Linked DNA regions of Homo sapiens. The protein of the gene in region 2 purifies or fractionates together with the protein of the main gene of each other region. This does not show direct contact. Each region holds a gene or a part of one and is shown on either strand. Other genes may lie near its edges. The genes, in order: GALNT12 and RXYLT1.

The links.
Region 1: the proteins of RXYLT1 (region 2) and GALNT12 purify together in Homo sapiens (affinity purification with mass spectrometry; one large-scale study listed by BioGRID and IntAct). This does not show direct contact.

The regions. Positions count from the first base shown.
Region 1 is NC_000009.12:98,847,931-98,850,720, reverse strand, and holds the end of GALNT12 (polypeptide N-acetylgalactosaminyltransferase 12), read right to left. Parts: intron 1,770-2,790; coding exon 1,629-1,769; 3' UTR 640-1,628; downstream 1-639. UniProt on the Homo sapiens protein: Catalyzes the initial reaction in O-linked oligosaccharide biosynthesis, the transfer of an N-acetyl-D-galactosamine residue to a serine or threonine residue on the protein receptor.
Region 2 is NC_000012.12:63,806,720-63,810,130, reverse strand, and holds the end of RXYLT1 (ribitol-5-phosphate xylosyltransferase 1), read right to left. Parts: intron 1,457-3,411; coding exon 1,039-1,456; 3' UTR 569-1,038; downstream 1-568. UniProt on the Homo sapiens protein: Acts as a UDP-D-xylose:ribitol-5-phosphate beta1,4-xylosyltransferase, which catalyzes the transfer of UDP-D-xylose to ribitol 5-phosphate (Rbo5P) to form the Xylbeta1-4Rbo5P linkage on O-mannosyl glycan.

The DNA.
Region 1 (2,790 bases), on a different chromosome or scaffold from region 2:
GGCAAAATACTTGGATTTCCTTCAGGGTCATAGGATGTTATACCAGTCAGGTTGGAATTTGGTATGTGTTGCTACAAAGAGTCTGTTTGGTCCATCTTAAGAGATCTGTTTTAACGTGAATGCCAGTCAGTTGTCTTTAAACTCCAAAGGGAGGAGAGGGTAATGAGGCTTGTCTGGATACTGCTCCCTTCTCATCATGGCCTGAACTAGTTTTTCAGTTCTGAACTAGGTTCAGGTTTTTTTGGGATCTTCTTGGCCAAGAGAGGAGTCCATTCAATCAGATGGGGGACCCCAGAATTTTATTTTTTATTTTTTGAGGCAAAGTCTGGCTCTGTCGCCCAGGCTGGAGTAGAGTGGCGCGATCTTGGCTCACTGCAACCTCCGCCTCCTGGGTTCAGGAGACTCTTCTGCCTCAGCCTCCGGAGTAGCTGGGATTACAGGCGCATGCCACCACGTCCAGCTAATTTTTGTATTTTTAATAGAGACGGGGTTTCGCCATGTTGACCAGGCTGGTCTCGAACTCCTGACCTCAAGTGATCTGCCCTCCTTGCCCTCCCAAAGTGCTAGGAGTATAGGCGTGAGCCACCGCACCCGGCCCTAGAATTTTATTTTTGGTTTACAGTACAAAAAGATCTGCAGTCAGTGTTCTCACATCTTTTTAATCATTCATATTGACTTAATCAGGTTGACAAAATCTCAGGGTTGGTCTGGGATCATTCACAAATCAGAATTACTCAGAGAAATTTTCACAGCAGTTGCAGCAGCACAAACTCTAACGCTGATTTAAATTAATAACTGTTATTAATGAACAAACTTGAAAAAGGAATTTCATATAGAACATTACATTTCTCCCTGACACTACCGTATCATAAAAATTAAAAATGATATAAACATGTTTTAAAGTCATAGTGGTAGAACCAGCCACACTACAGTGCGGCATTGTTAGAAGTTCGCTCTCAAGTTGACTCAGCTTAGTAAAGCAAATTGTTCTCTGAGATTTCAGCTTTGGTTAGTCCTCTTTGGCTGACATGAACATTATGGAGTGTTAACTGTGGTAGCAACACATAACCAAAAAGCATTCTTTTTAAAATACATCTAGAAGATCTCAATGACCTGAATAAATCAATACAATGTTCCTAGTGACAGTCTCTCTATACTGGGAAAACTTTAACCCCGCAGCTGAGGTATTATCAGTTAATGCAAAGTACGTTGCTTGAACCTGATTTCCACCCATGCAGATATCTTCGTACCTGGGAATTCTTGTAAATACCAAAATAAAATCTTTATCTTTTTTGCTAATGAGAGTAAAAGGCACGACTGTAAAATATACATCTTGATAGAAAAATATTATAAGGTTTTAATTTTCTAAATACCAAGGGTTAACATCTTACGATTACCCTTTGAAAATAGGGTATTTTGGAACATTTAAAAAGTTCTCAAAATAAGTACAAAGCTTATTCACATTTTTACTAAATCCAACACAACTTTCACAAATGGCAAAATGATTGCCTCTTCAAAGCAATGCAGCCTAGTTTTTGGTGGGTTCTGGTCACTGCTTAGCTAAGTCTTTGTTGGGCAGAGTCCTGGCTCCACAGTCTCCTTCGATGGGCTCCTTGATACACGAGGCTTCATAACATGCGCTCTTTGAAGAACCATTTCTGATGATCCGAGTTGGTGCAGTCTCGTAAGAGTGGAACGAAACTGTCACTCGACTCCTTCCTCGCAGCCTGGACACATTTCTTGGACTGTTCGTGAAATAAAGATCCATCCTACAAAAGATAACAGAATGACAGGCAAGTCATCAGAAAAGTCTCTTTTTCCTAAAGACATGTTTTAAAGAGATCAGGGTCTGATTTTTACCATTTCAGAAATATTTATTGAGGGGTAAGTGTCTTCCGTGTAACGCAGCAACTCAGGACTGTCCCGGGGACACAGCACCAGGCTTGTACAGGCTGCGTCCCGCTTGCCTCTCACAGGACCGATGGTGCCACCTGCTGGCTGCTCTGGGCATGTGTCATACCCTACATCTCCCTATTGCATTTGGCTTCCTTCAGGGAAATCAGGAACAAAGATCCTTTGTTTATCTCTTTCACTCCTCTTAGGTCAACTCATTCCGTGCAGGGTGATCTCTTTCTCTTAGGTATTTAAACAGAGTGTGGAAACTTGGCTGTAGTCCCAGCTCAGCCACAGACCAGATGGATGAGGAAGCCAGTCACTTGGCCTGAGCTACTCACCTGTCACACATCAGAGAATCAGTGGGTTATATGCCTTGTGCCAATTCCCAAACCCCAAAGACGATGGTCTTCTTTAATGACCTCCTGCTTCTCTCCTTTCTGCCAGCCCTTGCTCAATTATCTCAGCAAGTCTCTCTCTCAGGCCTGGTGTTTATCTTTTCCCTCTGCCTCTCTGTTATAAGCTGTATGCAACGAACTTAATCATGGCTGAGCAGCAAACAGGCAGAGTGAATAACAACATCAGTGAAAAACCTTTGTGATGTGCTGTTCACTAAATGGAACTTTTTTCATTCAAAAAAATCCAAACTCATGTTTTGTAGAATCCAAGAAATGACATTTCAGAGGTTTTTAGGCCTACATAAGAAAATACAAGGCTGGGCACAGTAGCTCACGCCTGTAATCGCAGCACTTTGAGAGGCTGAGGCAGGTGGATCACTTGAGGCCAAAGAGCTCAAGACCAGCCTGGCCAACATGGCAAAACTCCATCTCTACTAAAAATACAAAAAATTAGCTGGGCGTGGTGGCGGGCGCCTGTAGTCCCAGCTACTCAGGAGAC
Region 2 (3,411 bases):
CTTACTTTTTGTTAAAAATGAAGACACAACCGCATTAGCCTAAGCCTAGACAGAGTAAGAATCATTAACATCACTGTCTTCCACCTCCACATCTCACCCCACCACAAGGCCTTCAGGGGCAATAATAGGCATGGAGCTGCCATCTCCTGATAGCAATGCCTTCTTCTTCTGGATACCTCCTGAAGGATCTGCCTGAGGCTGTTTAACTTTTTTTTTTTTTTTAATAAGTACAAGTAGTACACTCGAAAATAATGATGATATGGTTTGGATCTGTGCCTCACCCAAACCTCATGTTGAATTGTAATCCCCAGTGTTGGAGGCAGGGCCTGGTGGGAGGAGATTGGGTCATGGAGGTGGATTTCCCCTATGGTGCTGCTTTCCTGGTAGTGAGTGCTTGTGAGATCTGGTTGTTTAAAAGTGTGTAGCACCCACCCCCTTTTCCCTCTGCTCTGGCCACGTGAAGACATGTCTGCTTCCCCTTCGCTTTCTGCCAGGATTGTTAAGTTTCCTGAAGTTTTCATGCTTCCCGTACAGTCTGTTGAACTGTGAGCCAATTAAACCTCTCTTCTTTATAAATTACTCAATCTCAGGCATTTATTCATAGCAATGCAAGAACTAATACAAATTGTAAAAAGTATAGTATAGTAAATACATAAACCAGTAACATAGTCATTTATTGTCATTATTAAATATTATGTACAGGACATAATTGCTGTACTTTTACTTGACTGGCAGTGCAATAGATTTGTTTACACCAGTATCACCACAAACACGTGAGTGATGTATTGCAATACATATGTCATCACTAGGCTATGACATCACTAGGCGATAGAAATTTTTCAGCTCCATTATAATCTTATGGGACCACTATCATATATGTAGTCTACCACTGACTGAAATGTCATTATGTGGCATACATAATGTAGAGTTTTCAAGGGTACCTTAAAGAACATCTATAAATACATACACACACAAACACATTTATACACCCAGTAGTCAAAATGATTTTAAAAATCACATGTTAGCTCAAAAAGATAATTAACTTTTATTATTCATTAAAAATGAGCTTTCTAAAATATTAGTAAATTTCATTTTAAGCTCTGTCTTGAAGTGCTGATACCACTGAAGTAACATTTTTCTTCTTTCAATTTTTTCTTGTAAAATTATAGTTTTCTCTTTTTCTAAAACAGCAGGGAGTTCCTTCCAGTTCTTGATAAAGATAAAGGGAGCACCCATGGACTTGAGTAACTGCAGAGGAGCACCGTGGTGCACAGATGTATTCCCACAGTTGCCAGCTGTCATCACGTCTTCCACCACAGGAATGGAGCCATAGGAGCAAGCCTCATAGATTCGATAGCATTCTGTGTTTACTCCGACCGGGCACAATGTGAGATCACTCTGAAGCAAGGCATCTTGGTAATTCTTAAGACTTTCATTTGTTTCCTGAGGCTGCCAGCTAGAAAATCAGAAAAACAACTGTAGTTTTCACTTTACTAAGTATATAGTTTGTGAACAAAAATACCTTATCTTTTAATAAAATCAGTTTCAGGAAATGGTGAAACTTTATAGAGATGATAGGCATAAGAGATATCCAAAATCCTGGCCCAAACAGATTTCTTAAAAATGTTGAAGAATTGGAACATTTTACAGTTGTACATTTATAAAATCTAGGAGTCACCGTAACACTTCTGAATGGATAATAATAATTCAACCGATACTTTGGGAGTGCTAGGTCCTCTCTTCCCTACCTTGCCCTCATGGAGCATATATTCTAGTTCTAGTGGTGGAGATGGATAGTGACCAAGTGAAGTCAGTAAATTATTTAGATGGGGTAGAATACTGTGAGAAAAGAGCAAAGGAGTAAGTAGAGCAGGAGTTTCTAAGGGGGTAGGGTTGCAATCTTAAATAAGTGATGAGGGACTGTCTTACTGCGGCAGCATCTGAGCACAGAGTTGGGGATGAAGGAGCAAGCCACGTAGATCTGGCGGGATAAAAGAGCAAGCAAGAGTGAAGGCCATGAGACAGCATGTGCCTGGCATGTTCAAGGAGCTGCGGGGAAGCCAGGGTGGCTGAGGTAGGGTAACTGAGGGAACAGGCGCAGAAGATAAAGTCTGAATGGTCACACGGGACTCTATCATGCAGGCTTTTGATCATGGGGTGACATGACGTGATGTAGGTTTCATCAGAATCAATCTGGCTATTGTGTTGAGAATGGACTGTACAGGGGCAAGGGTAGAAACTGAAAGATCAGTAAAGAAAGATAGACGCGGCTGGGTGCGGTGGCTCACGCCTGTAATCCCAGCACTTCATGAGGCCAAGGCGGGTGGATCACCTGAGGTCAGGAGTTCGAGACCAACCTGGCCAACAAGGTAAAACCCCGTCTCTACTAAATACAATAATTAGCCGGGCGTGATGGCGTGCACCTGTAATCCCAACTACACGGGAGGCTGAGGCAGAAGAATCGCTTGAACCTGGGAGGTAGAGGTTGCAGTGAGCCGAGATCCTGTCACTGCACTACAGCCTGGGCAATAAGAGTGAAACTCAGTCTCAAAAGAAAAAAAAAAAGATAGATGCTTTCTCCTGACTATTCTCAGTGAAATAAGCAATAGGGTCATAAAGTAAGAAAGGCGGAGGTGTTAGAGTGTAGGAGAGAAGAAGGTATAAAACAGCCTTCTAGGAGAGTGGGAGAATATATGGACAAGGGAAATATAAGACTGCTGGGCACCTGAGGTTCAAAGTCACGTGTTTAAATAAAGGTCAATTAGCACCTTTCTCCAATTATGTGTAGTTGCATGGGTGCAGGCATGGAGTAGGCAGAGAGCTGGATTTAACCAGAGTTATGGTTTGCCAGATTAGGGAATTAGGGAGCTGAAGGTATAGGCAATTATGATTGACAATGAAATTTAAGTTAGGTGAAGAATAAAATGAAGAAAGGGGAGTGAAGGACAACAAAAGGGTAGTAGGAACAATAGATTCTAAGTGCCAGCTGAATTGTCAGAGTCAGATTATTACACGGAATGAGCTGGAATGACAGATGATGGTGGTTGTAGAAAGAGATGCTGGGACTTGAGATCATGTTCAGAAGGTGCAGTATGTGTAATGACAAAGTCTAGGAAATAACCATGAGAGAGAATGGCTGAGGTCAGGTGGAAGCCCAGATTATTGGAGGAGGGGAGGTGAAGGAACTGCAAAGACCAAAATGACAGAAAGACCATCTATGTAGATTTGCCAGTCACTAAGAATTGAGAACAGAGTAGTGTCAGACAGAGCTAGAGAGTACCAGGAGCTAAACTCTTCGAAGAAGTAGGGGGAGAAACCCAAGGGTAAGTGCATGATTTCAGAGAGTAAGGGTGATGGATGGTTTTGTCTGCTGACATGAGTTTCAAAATTGGGATTATTAGGGAGGGAAAG